2 separate regions of the Homo sapiens genome follow, and region 2 is linked to region 1. A link means that fine-mapping ties the variant in region 1 to the expression of a gene that starts in the linked region. Tissue or cell type: aorta. Region 1 holds a variant in brackets; the other region holds the start of a gene. All regions are shown on one strand. Distances are from middle to middle.

Region 1 (8,109 bases):
AGGAAATTAATAGCACACCCTTTTTCATTCACACATACCATAAGTCATGAATCAGTGCTATGCAAGGGAAAACATGAACTCAATTACAAACTGTTGACTGTTGTATTACATAGCCAGGCAGCCAGACACAAATAAAGTTCTTTGTATATTCATTGCCAAATACCATTTTTGGTAGGGCTTCTGCAGGCTGGCTTCAAATCCACTCTTGGGAAGTTGCAATATGTTGGTATTTGTGTTCCCAGCCCTCTCCTTTTCACTGTCAAATGCTGAAGATCAAATTCTCCCTCCCCAACACTAATGCAGTGTGAAACCACAACATTGAGAGCTACTGGAGGGAAGGACTGAGAAAAGCAAAAGTACACAACAGCTGTTTAAGACCCCCTATGGAGAATCCTTTTAAATTCTCTGTTGGATAAAGTCTGAAAGTCCCACCCACATCCCCAGGGCTTACACATCGATTTAAGATTGTAACAGAAATAAAGGACTTTTGCATAAGAAGAGAAAACAGCTTAACTAGCATTGAACAGTGGGAAACAGATTCCTCCTTGTCACTTAATTTGGATTGTGGCACAGAGATTCTGATACTTACATACAGTTTCTTGCAGCCAAGTCTCTGTGGACAAACTTTTTGCTTGCAAGATATTTCATGCCTTTGGCTACTTGAAGACCAAAGCCAATAAGATCTTTTACAGTTGGATTCTGCAGTCAAAGAGAGTTAGAAAAGCATAAACTAAGCATCTACTGTTCTAATTTTGACCTTAGAATTCTGAAATATTTATTTATAAAAAATTATCTTGTCTCAAAAATTAGTTTGGTCTTAATGGCTCAAGCCTGTAATCCCAGAACTTTGAGAGGCCAAGGCGAGAGGATGGCTTGAGGCCAGGAGTTTGAGATCAGCCTGGGCAACACAGTGAGATCCTGTCTTTACTCCCATCCACCGCCCACAAAAAAATTAGCCTGGTGTGGTGGTGTGCACCTATAGTCCCAGCTGCTTAGGAGTCTGAGGAAGGAGGATTGCTTGAGCCCAGGAGTTGGATACTGCAGTGCACTATGACTGTGCCACTGCACTCCAGCCTGGGTGACAGAGACCTTGTCTCCAAAAACAAAAAACAAAACAACAACAACAAAAAGTGTGCCCCATTGACAGATCAACCATTTGTTAAGTATTTATTGTATGCAACACACCAGGCTAATTGTTTTCATAAATTACAGCTACTTCTACACTTCTGTCAGGCAGGTGTTACAGGCTCCATTTTCCAGATGGGAAAATGGAGGTGTTTTAAAATGTAGTTTTATTATTTTCCAGGTATGATGAGGCCAACAGAACAGGAGACAACTGCCATTGAAAAGATAGTTTGCTATTCACAGTTTGCAAGAGGAGGAGGCACACCCTGTCATGCAGGGTCACATGGGGGAAGCCCTGGGCTCTAGAGGCAGAGAGAGAGAGGGGAAAAACATGAGCAAGAGCCTTCATTGCAGTTTCCCTGGGAAGAAACTGGTAAGGCAGGGTAAGCAGGTTTGGAGCTGGCCAATCTGGAGTATTTCAGCAGGCTCCGAGGATAGTTCTAGTTGTCTGGAACTGGGCCCTGGGGTGATTAGGGCAGGTGGATAGTAGCCCAAAGTGTAAGAGCCTGATAAAGGAGGAGGTTAGATAAGGGCTCTGGATTGGTTGGTTTGCACATGACAGGTATGCTTTGAAGGCAAGCTGTTTACTATTTGCAGGAATTAGCTAGCCTTGGGAGGGACAGTTCCTCCAGGGTTAGTAAGGCCCAAGATGTTAGAACATCAGAAGCACAGTGAATAGAGGAGGCTCAGAAAGAAATCACCCCAAACCACTCAGCTGTCAAGTCTGGTGATGTCACTGGCTGGCAATCAGGAATGGGGTATTCCCCTTCAACAGTCACTGAGGAGTTTGTCAGTGCAAGATGTAGTCAGTGGGGACCCTGCAAAAGGGCTGTAGCCCCACTCAATGCACACAGCATAGAGAAAGGCCAGTTCCTGGTTTTAGGTTTCTCTTTAAGACACATCTGGGTTTGTGGTTGCTCTCAGTATCAGCTCCTTGGATTAAAAAAGGCCATGGCACTATTCCGTTCTGGATAACAGGAAATCTCTATCATGCTTTAATCCTGGGGTAACAGTACCCTAGAGAAGGTAGCACCTCCAGCCACATTAATCCATCAGGGTAATAACAAAAGTTGAAGTGGGAAAGTGGGGTCTGTCAGGGCAGCTGTGTGCTTTGTAAGGTCAATTCGCCTTATCTGCAAAAGTTCACTGCCAGGGAATGTTTTATTCTTTTGGCTGAGTAATATCTCATTACTCTCCTAGAGCTTATTTTCTCTGATAATTTGACCCCATATTTATAAAGTTGCTTTTGATCAACTTCATTACCTCCCACAGAGACTTGGAGAGCAGGAACCGAGACGGAGCTTGAGGCCTTCTATGAATTCAGTTCTTGAGATTCTTATTCCCACCCTCCCTGGTCCTGGCCTGGTGACTTTTAGGTCCTGGCATAAATGTCAAGAAAAAAATCTACCACTTGCAAGAGGCTAAGAACCTTTTTTTGTAACCCTTAGCTGATTCATTCAACAATTATTTACTGCGAGTCTATGTGCTAAACACTGTTTTAGGTGTTGGAGCCACAGCAGTGAACAAAATACACAAAAATCCTACCCTCATGAGCTTCCATTCTAATGGGATGAGGGTGTGTGTACATATATATGCATACATATACATCTATATAGCTATTGTTTATTTGTTTATTATCTACTACAGTGCTATTCAATAGAAATATAAAGCAAGACACACATGTAATATAAAATTTTCTAGTAGCCATACTCAAAAGTAAAAAGAAACAGGTGAAATTAATTTTCACAATGTATTTTTCAACCCCCAAAATCCAAAATATTTCAGCATGTAATCAATATAAACAACTACTAGTGAGATATTTCACCTTCTTTTTTTTTTAATACTAAGTATTCAGAATCTGGGATGTATTCTACACCGTACAGCACATTTCAGTTCGAACTAGCCTCCTTTTACATGTGGCTCATGGCCATAGTATTGGGCAGCTTCAGGCAGCTTCATGCATGTATCAGATGACAGTTAAGTGTGATGGGGGAAAATAGAGCAGGGAAGAGGAGTCTGAAGCCATGAGGGTGGGTGGTCAGTTGCAATTTTAAACAGATTAGGGAAGGCTTATGTTGAAGATGGCATTACGGCCAAAAGCTGAAGAAGATGAGGAAGTGAGATACGTGGCTATTTGCGGGGAGAGTGTTCCAGGCTGAGGGAGCACAAGTGCAAAGTTCCTGAGGTGTGAGAGTGGATGGCAAGGACAAGGAACAGCAAGGAACGCATCTGGAGTTAATTTTTCAATGCCTTGTAGAGTTAACATTCCATATGGGCTGAGGCTTGCTCTGCTTCCACTTCTCCTGTGCTGTGCACAGTTTCTGGCACATAGTAGACATGCAAAGATGACTAAATGTCCCTATCAGAGGGAAGGTAGAGCAAGGTTGCTTGCAGAGCAAGTAAGAATCATTGCTCCAGGAAACCCTTCCAGGTGTCACTATTTCCCACCAGGATAGAAGACTTTGAGGTGCATTTGAATGATGCTAACATTTTAAATGTGCATCTTTGGCTACTAGCTTTTTAAAGACTCAGAGCAGGCCTATTTTGAAGGGATGGCTGGCTTACAGCTAGTTTGCCAGTTAGTAAGCTTGGCAGTCAACTTACATGAGTCTCATTTCGAATGAAATTTCGAAGATCTCCATGTTTCATGTATGGTAGGACCACCAGCGGAGACCCTTCACTTCGCAGGCAGATTCCCAGGAGCGAGAGGACATTGGGATGACTAAAATCTTTCATGATGATTCCCTCGGTCAGAAATTGGGAAACTTCTCCTATGTCAGTGATTCCTGAGAAATCCAGTGGTGGAGACATTAACTTCATTATGGAACAGTGAATACTTTTGTCAAATTTAGATAGGAAGAGCAATGAAATGGTAAACCACACAGTTAGCATCTTGTCCTGAGGGTTTGACTGCAGAGTGTTCTTTTTACATCACATCTGAGTGAATGATGCCACCGTGCACTGTGCCTTCCAGTCACCACCTATGCCCACTTTTGCAAGATAGAGTCCAACCAGCCACCAGTTTGTCTCCTATAAACTTAGTGCAAAGGTTATACTTAGGTTTCATAAAGACTGTCCATTTATTTCCCTCATGGTCAGACTTCCAACAAAATTAACCATGTAGAACACTACTTAGCATGTTGATTTATATTTTAAAAAGACTGAAATAATTGTGACAGTAAAGTATCTTGCAGGAAAATCTTTCATTTGTGCACTTAAAGCTTATTAAGTCCCATATAAAGTTTGTAGTAGAGCTGGTTAACATTTTTCAGGCTGCTGCAATTTGCAAGCAGAAAATGAGAAATGGGAGTAGAAAACGCAAGCATGTGAGACCTGTCAACACAGGCGGAGCCAGGAACACTATGTATGTGGAGTACACTGTTTGTGTAATATAGTAATTTATGGCTGTAATTATGGCTTGGGGTCACCAATAAAGACTTAGTTTGTATTTGGAAGCATTCCCTTAAACAGAGTATGCATTTCATCTTAAAAAGATTTTCTCAATAACAGCTAAAATTTTAAGTAATGTTCCAGCATTAAAAAGGGGTAGGTTTCATTTATTTAGGAAGTTCATGTATGTGGAATGCCTCACTCTCCAAAAATGTGGATAAATGAGGTATTACCATACTTATGATTTTTCAATTTTTGGCCAGCGTAGTTTTCTCCTGTTTGTCTTATTTCATTTTTTATCTTTTTAATGGAAGTTGTGGTTAAAAAATAATTATAGTAATGCCTCTGGGTAAAATGAGTCATTACTACTGTAGGTG[C/G]CAACATGCTTCCAATAGTTTCCAGAAATGTCACTTGCAAAACAAATATTATAAACCAAACATAGTTATAGTTAAATGATACTCAGTTCATCCAAGAACCTCATTTCTCCTACCCCCTTACTAATGAGGGCTCTGAGGGATCATTTCAGGGGAAGTAGTTCAATAAAAGTCTAGAACAAAACAAATTTTCAGGATTAGGCCCATAATTTCAGTGGTAGCTGATTTTTCCACAAGGGGAAAGTGTAAATCAACGTTTTATTATAAGCTATTTATTAGGTTGCAAACCACAAAAGTATACTCCATGGTTAAATAAAATGCCACTTACTGTTCAAGGATTTCACAGCACAGTGAATTTTCTTGCCATCATTGTCCAACAAAGTCCCATGATATACACAACCAAAATGCCCTGTGCAAAAGAAAGAACTTGGTTAGCACTGCGTAACATTTAATTATGAAATAATTATTTATCAAACCCTTTATGAGCTTCATTTTATTCTTTCTTCTTTCTATACAGCAAAAGAGTACATTTAAAAAATACTTTTAACAATACCACTATAGGTACGTAGGTGTGTTTGTAAATATATATGTAGATGCAACACATTTCACCCAAGGATATAAGCAATGTGATTATTTAATTCATGAATAAGTTGTAGATGATATGACTCATATTAAAGCCTAACCTAATAAAATATTCAACCACAGTGGAACCACTGAAAAGGTGAGTAACATCGGCCTCATCAAATAAATTTTTTTAAAGGATGACATAGTATTTTAAAATATGAAAATAAAGTTAACCCACATGAAGAACTATAATAAAATAAGTTCTCTATATTCTAATAAGCTGAAATGAAATAAAAATGTTACCATTAAAAATAGGATTAGTATTATAGAATAAGGATTTCCCCATTAGTCACTGGTTAATACGTAATCCAGGTTGGCAGAAACTGAAAGGCAGTTGCCCAGATGAAGCAAATTCACCCTGACTCACTTCATCCAGTTCTCTCTGGCTTTAACCACATCATTTTCCCAATGGTAGCCTTTTATCCAGTGGCAGTAATTTCCCCCAGAGGTGCCAAATGTCTGATAGCTGTGTAAGTCATTCACTAATTAATTCATCCAGCTGGCCAAGACACCATGAGTGCCTAGTATGTGAGTGTCAGGCATTAGGCTGCCCTCTACTAATGCAAAGAAGAATAAAATAAAACTTATGCTTTTGAGTGCTCCTATTCTCCTGCAGAAAAACATATAAATACATAGTAGCTAATATTTATAGAGCTGTTAATGATTATAACTTCAAAAGAGAAATAATTGCCATTTTAGTACCTTTCATGATAAAAAATTCTAGTTTTCCAAATGTGTAGAATTAGAACACAATTAGTGAGTCCACACACTCTAAAATTGATGCAATTACTGGGATTTATAGGCCTATGACAGAACTATATATTACTCTGAAGAGAAATGGAAAGATGTTTGTTAACAGTGAAGCCACTCTTGGGGAAGAAGGAGCACACAAAGGATTACGCTCTGGGGTGTTTGACAGAAGAATGTGTGGATGCTACCACAGGAAAGTGAGAAGGCCTTGTGTTCATATAAGGGAAATCACGCCATCAGCTTCTCTTGTATCACACTGGCAGATGCCTGTACAACCTCTTGCAGCACATATAGAATAAAAGGGATCAGAGGCCATTTAGTATTAAGGGTAAAAGCTTTTTAGAAAAAAAAAAACAACAAGAAGAATGAAGTTCATTTCCCGGTTTTTGATTGGTTTCTTTTCCTGCTAAATATTTCCACAAATACTGTTTATGCTAGCTGTTATTGCTGCTTTGGCTAGCTTATTACAAATATTCATTTATCTTTGTATAAAGAAATTGGAGTGCATTGTAGAGATGATATATGTTGCTTTAGATCAGGAGAATGCTATAAATTCTCTGTCTTCTGATGCTGTCCAGCAGTGTACAAACTGCTATAAACCAGGCTTCATAGAGTTTGTCACTGTTCTCAGGGTAAAGAAAGACTGGAGAGAGATTGAATAAAAATACTCAAAATTAAAGGAGTGATATTTATTTATTTATAAGTATTTATTTTTTTGACATGGAGTCTCGCTCTGCTGCCCAGGCTGGAGTGCTGTGGCACAACCTTGGCTCACTGCAACTTCCACCTCCTGGGTTCAAGCAATTCTCCTTGCTTCAGCCTCCCCAGTAGTTGGGATTAAAGGCACCCGCCACCACGCCTGGCTAATTTTTGTATTTTTTTAGTAGAGACGGGGTTTTGCCATGTTGGCCAGGATGGTTTTGAACTCCTGACCTCAGGTGATCCACCTGCCTCGGCCTCCCAAAGTGCTGGGATTACACGTGTGAGCCACTGCGCCTGGCCCTGAGTTTTAGAAGAAAGTAAATGGCACCTTTGAAGAAACTATAATTGCTAGTACACACAGGACGAGGACGAATTGTGATTTAGTTCTAATATATTTGGGGGATTATCCAATTGCTTCCATGCACAAGGGCAAATCCCCACGGATATGATTTACAGGGCTACATTTCTATAGAACAGAAATCAAGTACACTTGTTATCACTGCTCTGTCAGTTGCTTTCACCATTGTCTAAGTTCCTAATCTGCAAAGGCCAAAGATAAAATGCTTACTGGAAAATCGTATTTAACAAAAAGCTGAGTGGAAATACTTACCTCTTCCTATGACTTCATTGAAATGCACAATCAGGCTACTGGGCCCAATCACTACATGCTGCACTGCCTGGACCAGCTCTGGATTTAGAGCACTGAGGTCAATGTGGACAGTATTTTGCAGTAATGGACTGGATATATCAGAGTCCCCACTAGTTAGGATGGGGGACATGTCTGTCAGAGGATACTGCACTTGTCGGCATGAACCGTTCTGAGATGAATTAGGAAACTGATCTGTAAGATGAAGGAAAATTATTAAAGAACAACAGTAAAACCTCATTTAATGGGGACTGAAACAGGAAGAGCTTTTATAATGGAATTAGTTTGATAAAAATGATAATAAATTGGGAAAAGATACTAAGTTATATATACAAGCATTTCATTAGATGTTTACAGATTTTCATTTAAGTAGACTAAGTATTAATTTTGAAAGCTTTTTACCCTCATTTCCTTAGACATTTCTCTCTTTATCAATAGCAAAAAGCCATGCTTATGGTTTATTTTTGAATATACTATGTCCTTAAGAATGGAAGCAGT
Region 2 (8,109 bases), 110 kb after region 1:
GAATAGCACTCCTGAGAAGTGCTCCTCATATGCGCCTGGCTCACTTCCTTATCTCCTTCAGATTCTAGCCCAAAGCCCACCTTTGAAGACAAGCCTTCCCTGACCTCACTATTGAGTTTTTCAATCACCATCCCACTCTCTCTTATCCTTGACAGTCACTATTCTCTTTTCCATTTTATTCTACCTTGAAGCTATTATCATCACCTGACATACAACACATTTCAGTTATGTATTTCTTTATTGTTTGCCAACTCAATAGAACAGAGTGTCATGAGGTTAGAGGTTTTCATCTGTTTTATACTCTGTGGAAATGCCAGATTTTAGAACTATGCCTCGTAGGTTGTCAAAAAATTGTCCTGAATGAATGACTAAATCCTCATTCACATTCTTGGAGTACAGGAACCTGGCTTTCACGATAACTTGTGATTCTCTAAGCACATTTCATAATTGCTATCCTTAATTATATTAGGAGAGATACATTTTCAAATTCTATTGCCCATTATATAATCGCCTGTGGGCCCTATAGCTACATAATTTATTATAGAAATTAAAATCAATGGGAGTAACCTACATAAACATACTTGCACACATTTATGCAATCACAGAGAGAAATATGTGTACCTGGGTATGTGATTACAAAGTTAACTTTTTTATTTCACTGAGCTCATACCTCCTGCTACAAATGCCACACGTGATTTTTTCTCTCAATTAAGTTTTACAGCTTATAAAAGCACTTTTTTCATTTTGTCCCATGAAAAGCAAAGTAGTCAGATTTTACTGGATGTTTTTATTGAAACAAATCCCAAGCGGAATATACTAACCTGTTTAACACAGCTGAAAAGATATCTGAGAATGGGCTTTCTGATAGAAGGATAGATTACAAAATTATTCACGGCTCTTAATCTGATAACAGGAGCAGAATGCCCCACACATATGAATGAAACCTTTTCTCGGTATGTCTCACTACAAAGAAAAGAAAAAAAGAAAAGAAAAGAAATTAAAAAAAAAAAAGAGAGAGAGAACTGGAGAAAGAGAAGGTGACAAAAACTCCAGGGACTAGATATGTTATATTCATCATTTACCACTATCTTAAGCATCCCTAATGATGCCTCCATGGAAAATGTTTCCAATAGTTGATGGCTGAGGAAAGGTGGTATGGTGCTATTGAAATAGCATGGAGCTAGTCTCAAGCTCAGTTTCCTTGTCTATAACATAAGAATGTTAAGATGTTATCAGACTTGCCTATCTTGTAAGGTCGTTTTGGTATCAGAAAGGTGATGTATGCAGAAACAGCTTGAAAATGTTAAGGTTTTTAAGTTCCAAACTTTGATTTTTAAAAAAAAATTCTATTATTTCATAGCAAATAGGATGATTTTGAAAGCGTTTCTCATGTGATGTCCTCTTAATAATTATGAATTTGTGTTCATTTAATATGTGATATTTGTCTGTGTATCTAGATCATAAACTTCTCAAGGGCAGATTCCATTTCTTTCTTTTAAAGAAAATGCTGTAGTACCTAGCACATATGATACTCTACCTATAGGTCCTAGCTATTTTTGGTCAGGCAAATGTGGATCTAGCAGCAACTCAGTGTCAGTTGAGAACACATCATCAAAGTGATTCTGAACTAACATTAGTCAGTGTATCTATCATTTATTACTGAGAAGTGACTATTTATTTTGCACTGAGCAAAACCCATGAAGAAACTCTGCCCTAAGGGCTTGGTGTCAAAAACACTAGTTTCAGCATACACCAGCCAGGAAAAGAAGGCTCACTTCCGGACACTTGAGTTTCTACATACATTTTCTCCCCTTAAGAGGGCACAATGAGGAAATTGAGTATCCTATGAATAAACACAGCAGACCAAGGAAATCTTAGGGATTTAGACCACGGAAAAGAAAGCGTAGATGGCTCTGGCGAGAATCACTAAGCCTAATGCCTAAAGAAGAAACGAGCAAACTGGGCTGGAGAAATGGGGGCACGGAAGGCCTTGAAAGCAGCTCTGACCAAACCAAGGGAAAGGGTTGAGGAGGAAGAGGACAGAGAAATGGGAGGTAATCTGAATGTGTGAGGAACTGTGCTCACCATGGGGGTGTTGCCATGTCTTTGGTGCAGCCACTTGGAGAAAATAAGCCAGTTAGAGGATGTTAGCTCCTCTGAGTTATTCACGTTGTTTTGAGATGACCACATTTGAGAAAAAGTTAATTTGAGACTATTATGTAGATCTGCAGAAGGATAATATGACTAATGCTACTTCAAACACTATTTTAAAAACAGCTAAGGAAATTGATTTTTGAAATGTATTTCTTAGTCTAGCCCTCATTAAGACAATTTTTTTTTAAAGATTTCAAGATTAATGCAAGGCATATACTTACATAGTCTTAAAAGGAATTTATAAAATATGGGTATTTCTCCTGCTTAGCAAAGGGTCATTTTTCTCTATTATAGGTTTAAAAGTAGTGAAAATATTAGTTATGAGCTTTCGTATTGACTGGCTATGATTAATCTGGTACATTTTTTATCATGAAGATAAACTCCATCAACTAATTTTGAAAGCATGTAGTATACATCTAATGTAAACCCCTACTGCCATGTATCAAGAACAAAGCAATTTTGAAAAAGCAGTAGTCGGCAGACTGTCTTCTATATGCCACAAATTCCATCATGTTAAAAGCAAAATATATTTAAGTTAATAACTATAGCTTATACACCATTAAGTTTGAAAACGGAATAGAATTTTTAAAACAGCAGTACATTTTATAGGCTATCAGACACATTTTTGTACTACCAAAATTTCTTATGAATGATGTAAATTTTCCCTCTGTTATTCAGCAGTTCAAAAAGAATGAACATTGAATACACCACAGACTTGCAAATGATAGGAACCAAAGTACCTCACTTATGTTCCATTATGGAAGTTTACACGTTCAAAACAAAGCTCAATTAGCTTAGATCAAGGAAGGAAAGCTATGTACCTGTAAATAATCCAAGCACCACTTACACTGTTTACATAAAAATGCAATTTATGTCCCTGTAGCACAGAGAAACATGATGTACATCATTTTCAGATCATCTTCATGCAGAAAAAATTCATTAGTCAGCTATAATAGTTTAGCTGTAAGGGAATATAATGTTTTTCTGAATCCATTTGCATGGCAATGTGCATGTGTCTGGCTGATGAAAGCGACAGAATAAACCCCCACCCAAAGCTACAGAATGTGAACAGTCTTCTTAAAATTCAAGAGAGGGTCCAGATAGTCTATATTGCCTCCAACGTCAGTTCTTACAATCCTCTCACATTCATGGACCATCTTAACATAGCAATTAAAGTATCTTGATTATTTTGCCTAAGAGAGTTGACAATATTTCATTCTGCCCGAGGGCTCCTTTGAACATAAAACTGTGATAAGGTAAAATACACTGGGCAACTATTCATGCGTGAGCCATTGGAGCCCTCTCCAACTGCCAAATTAGCAAATGGCTCTTTTAAAACATGAAAGATATGAATGGGAAACCGTACTTCGGAGTAAATTCTGCATTGACAATAGTCAGGGAAAGTACTTTCACTGGTGCTTTAATTATCGGGTCAGCACTACGACTGGCCACATCGCTCAGCCTCTGGTTATAATCTATTTCACCTAATAAGATAGATGTCCACCACAAGCCCCAGAAAGAGATAAGGTACGATGGAAAATTGATGGATCACAAGCCCCGCGTGATTGCCAGAAATGAATTCAGACTTTCACAGAAACACCTGCCCCTTGGAAGGACCCCAACATAACACAGATAAAGCAAGGCTGGGAACAAGGAAACAGCTCGGCTCAAACCTTGCCAGCTGCATCACGGTGGGACGAGGATGACCGGATCCCTTTTGTAAGGGCTGAGTCAGATCCCAGCTTTAAAACTTGCTGGGCCGTAACAGTCACACATCACCCACTGTCCCAGCGCCCCTCTCCCTCCTAAGTCATACAGGTGGCCATCAGAAGCAACCCCCTAAAAAGACAAGCCCCATTCTAGTTTCGTCCTCGCCGTGGCCACGTCTCTTCAGTTTCCGAAGCCCCTAAACTCTAGCCCACCTACGTGGTTTTGCCCCCTGGAACAGCAGTCAGGTCTCTTAGGGGAACAAAGAAAGCAGAACCCCTGAGGCGAGGGATTGGGTACTGGATCTGAAAGGGGCTGCAATTTTACCTTTCGGTGCCCAGGAACCAGTGGAGAAGTCAGCGGCGCAAGGACCACACGCGCGCTCCGCGCCTCCCCGCCTCCTCTCAGCAAGTCAGCTGTCGCCCCGCATCTGGCTCGCGCCCTCCACTCGGCTCCGCATCTGCTCACAAAGCGCTCGGGGCGCCGCGGGCGGCGAGGGCCTCCGGGTCACCTGCGGCCGGGCTGAGCCCAGCGCCCCGCCCGCCCGCCGGCCGCACTCCCTCCGCCCCTTCCCACACGCGCGCTGCCCTGCCAGTGACTCAGCCGGGCATCGGCGCGCGCGGCCCGCGGCGGCCCGGGCGCGTTGGGGCCGGAGGCACCGCCAGGCGACCAGACTGAGGCGCTCGCCTGCCCGCCCCAGCACGTGTCTGTCTGCCTCGCGTGCTGTCCGTCCCCTAGTCCGCGGGTTCCGAGGACCGCTGAGGTGGGGACTGGCACCACCCAGAGGGAAATCGGCCCCCGCCCTTCCTGCCGTCCGCGCCGCGCCTGGCCCCGCGGGGGTCGCGTTTCCTCCCGCCTCTGCCCCGCCCACGACAAGGTGAAACTTTCTAGGTGGAGAAGTTTTCTCGCCCTGGCTGCGCGCTCTCCTCCCCCAGCTCAGGCAGTCTGAAGTTAGCACAGCCGGAGATAAGCGGGACCGAGTCTCCCCCTCCTGGCGCTTGGGAGGCGAGTGTCACCCCGGGCTCAGATGCAGGGCGCGCACCCTCCTGGCACCCCGCTCGCTGACCCCGGGAAGGGCGCGAGCTTTGCTCTCGGCCTCTCCCACGTCTCCGCTAACCGCCCCGCGCCCACCCGGGTTTAGAGAGATTTGGGCACCGCAGAAACAAGGAGTTCATTGTTAGAGGCGGAGGTAGAAGTGGATGGACGAATTGTCCCAATGATTTCATTATGCAACGATTATCCTCTACTATAATAACTCAAATTTCTGCAAGGAAGAACAACAGAGGAGTTTAACCCTGAGGAGACTTCCATTTCTTTTTTTCTTTTTTTTTTTTTCCATAGCCGGAAGCAGGCTGATTAAATAACTGGGCAAATAGCGATGAATAAGCACAACAGAACAAAAGTTTAATTCTTGAATGTTGAAATCTTATGATGATTTTTAAAAAAGAGCTTTTGGGGCCTCGGTGAACTCTATTAGGAGTAATTGTGTTGGGATAACTTTGTATTTCGCTATAAAAATTGGCACCTACAAGAGTAAATGAACACTCAAAGGTAATAGGATCTAAGGAACGGGCATTGCCGGTTAGAACTTGAGTTCGTTCCGGCTCTCATACCAACTTGTTCAATCATGGCAATAGATAATGAGACATAGATATCTTCGTTATTGAAAGTCATGGGTTAAAATAACAGTTACTATGCAGGTTCAGTTCTTATTTACTACAGAATGAAACATAGAAAAATGTAGTAAGAATAGTTATCATTTCCCAAGTGCCAGGCACTTGGAAATGATAATGTAACCAGAGGTTACATAAGAGTGATTTCAGTCCTCAAAAGAGATTACCTCTTGATTCCCCAGTTTTATGGAAAAGGAAAGTTCCCATTACGTTACTAAAGTCTTGCATTGAACCATTTTGCAGGTAAAGAAACTGAGTCCCTAAAAGTTCCCAGGAGAGTCACATAGCTGGTTAGTAAGAGGGGCAAAGTTAGAACTTAGCTTTCAGCCCAGTCAGGTGTCCTTCACACCATACCAAGAGGCCTCAGCAGGCTAAATAAACAACGCGGCCTGACTGGAGATTTCCTGATACGGCATGGCATAATTTATCAATGACTATAGCTCATTAAAAAACACTAATTTACTGGTAATAAGGCACTGGGCCTATTTATGGACAGATCAATTACAGATTTTGGGTTCAGTAACAGCTTTCAATAAAAGATGAATAAATTAATGAATTTAAAAAGTTTTACACACACACACACACACACACACACACACACACAGAGCCATAGTTGTCTAAAGGAATGATTAGAGTGCTGTTTCTATTTCCTGGTTTCCATAGCAATATGTTAACTGGATTTTTAGATCACATTATGTAGTTGCCTTAACAGGTTTTCTGAGTTTGAGTGCCATGATAAAAATATAAAAGAAAAAATTTACAATTAAAGTTGTAGAAAGACCCAGAAAAGCCAATGCAAACTGGAAAATAAAATAGATGATAAATACAAACAACCCGTTGTGTATTTTCAGCACTGAAACTTTCTAGTTTCTAATAACTAACAAAATTTCAATCCAGTTTTGAAACTGTATTGAAAATCATCATTTCATTTATCAACTGTAAATAAGGAGATAACATTTTATGAAATAACATAACTAACAATAGCATAACTAAAAGTATCTGGGTGTGTGAAGGTCAAGTAATTTTTACACACTACCTAGACAGATTTGATTGGGAAAATGTTTACAGATAATTTCAGATTTTTGGAAATGAATGGAAACAGATATTTTAAAAGGTAATAGGAGTTCTATAATTCAATTTTGGTTTTGCAGCAAACTTTTAATTGTTGCTATTTAACTTTCCTTGGGTTCATGTCATGGGTGATACACTGTATGATGAAGTTCTGTTGGTATTTTCTTAACCAAACCAAATCTCTTGTGGTCCACACTGTTGGCTGGCTAAGCCAGCATCTGTTCCCAACGAGATTTTCCTGTTCCTGCCTCCACTCTTGGGGCTTGAAAAGAGAAATATTTGCTTTCCCAGACTCCTTTGCAGCTAGACATGGCCATGTGATGTCATTCTGGTAATGAGGTATAAGTTGAAGTCTGATGGGGCCTTGTGGGAAAGGGTTTAAGGCTGGTGCCACCCCTTTTCCTTTCTTGCTTCTTGATTTCATATATGATGCCCAGTGAAGAACTAACCATCTTGTGACCAGCATGCAGAAGTTGGTGCTGACATTGCTGAGGTACAGCCCTACTGCCAGTAGACACCTGCTTCCAGATTTCTTGTTTTGTGGAAAAAAAACAAAAACAAAACTTGTTCTAGACACTGGTAGCTGGGACTTCTGTCACCTGCAGCTGAAAGCAATTAAAACTGATAGACCCCTCAAATTGGGAACAACATCTCCAAGACTGAGTTGAGCATAATAGTTAAGAGTTTTAGAACCAAACAACCTGGATTTCAATCCCAGCTATGTCTCTTGCTAGCTGTGTAGCTACAGGCCAGTGGATTAAACTCTCTCGTGTCTCATCTGTGAAATGGGGATCATGATAGGGTTATTGTGAGGATAAAATGAGGAGCTACAAGTAGAGCACATGGAACAGTGTCTGGTAAAATATAAATGATCCAAAGGCATAAGCAGGTCTTATCCATCCACCTGTGGATAACATAATGTTGAACTACAAACAGGATCCCATCTCTTAACTTTGAGATGGGTCTAGTGATAGCTGTGACAAAGAGACAGAGGAACAGCCACCTCCTGCTCTAATATGCTCTATCTTTTTTTCCCTCCCTTTAACACATTAAAATTTGGGTCTTTGAAGGCACTCTTGAAGTTGGTGCTGTTTTTGAAATAAAAATGAAAGCAGTCTCCTAAGAATAGGGGCTTCATGCTTGCAATGTATGGTGAATAGGGCCCACAGACATATACAGGTGCACAGAATGTTTTTAAAAGTGTGAATTGAGGTAGAAAGACCATATGATCTGCTGTTTGCCATTGACCTACCATCTTCTCTTGGGTTGTGTCTGGCCCACCTCTGATCTTGATTTCACTTTCTCCTGTAGGCATTAGGATCTGTGATCCCTGCCTTAAAGAGTAGTTACTCTGGAACTCCTTCTTTCACTCTGTTTTTCCCTTCCTCCTGCCCCATCACCCCTATTATTGTGCCTATGGCAAATGTCTCTACAAAAAGACAATAGAAGAATTCAGGTAATGTCACCTAATGTCATTTCTGAGCACAGATAAAATTTGGAAATG

Direction of the effects. Alleles are on the strand shown, and positions count from the first base shown. SD is a standard deviation of normalised expression in the study named.
For the expression in aorta of the gene that starts at base 4,570 in region 2, allele C in region 1 goes with a higher level than allele G (moderate effect, 0.65 SD a copy in GTEx).

What was found. PIP is the estimated chance that this variant, and not a neighbour inherited with it, causes the effect.
Region 2: MET starts here. The variant in region 1 is fine-mapped to the expression of MET in aorta (GTEx, PIP above 0.99). The same link has a PIP of 0.9 or more in tibial artery.

What each region holds. Positions count from the first base shown.
Region 1 is chr7:116,774,578-116,782,686 of GRCh38, reverse strand. MET (MET proto-oncogene, receptor tyrosine kinase) reads right to left here. Exons shown (of 21, transcript NM_000245.4): 15 at 7,576-7,806; 16 at 5,218-5,298; 17 at 3,730-3,911; 18 at 590-699. Among named protein-coding and RNA genes, the nearest start is that of CAPZA2, 84 kb to the left of the region's middle. RefSeq lists enhancers at 53-980, 981-1,909, 5,461-6,660. The variant C/G (reference allele first, on the strand shown) is at 4,893.
Region 2 is chr7:116,668,657-116,676,765 of GRCh38, reverse strand. It overlaps MET (MET proto-oncogene, receptor tyrosine kinase), which reads right to left and starts at 4,570. Exons shown (of 21, transcript NM_000245.4): 1 at 4,189-4,570. All of the region lies in intron 1 of COMETT (cytosolic oncogenic antisense to MET transcript), which reads left to right. RefSeq lists silencers at 4,403-4,592, 4,653-4,782, 4,913-4,962.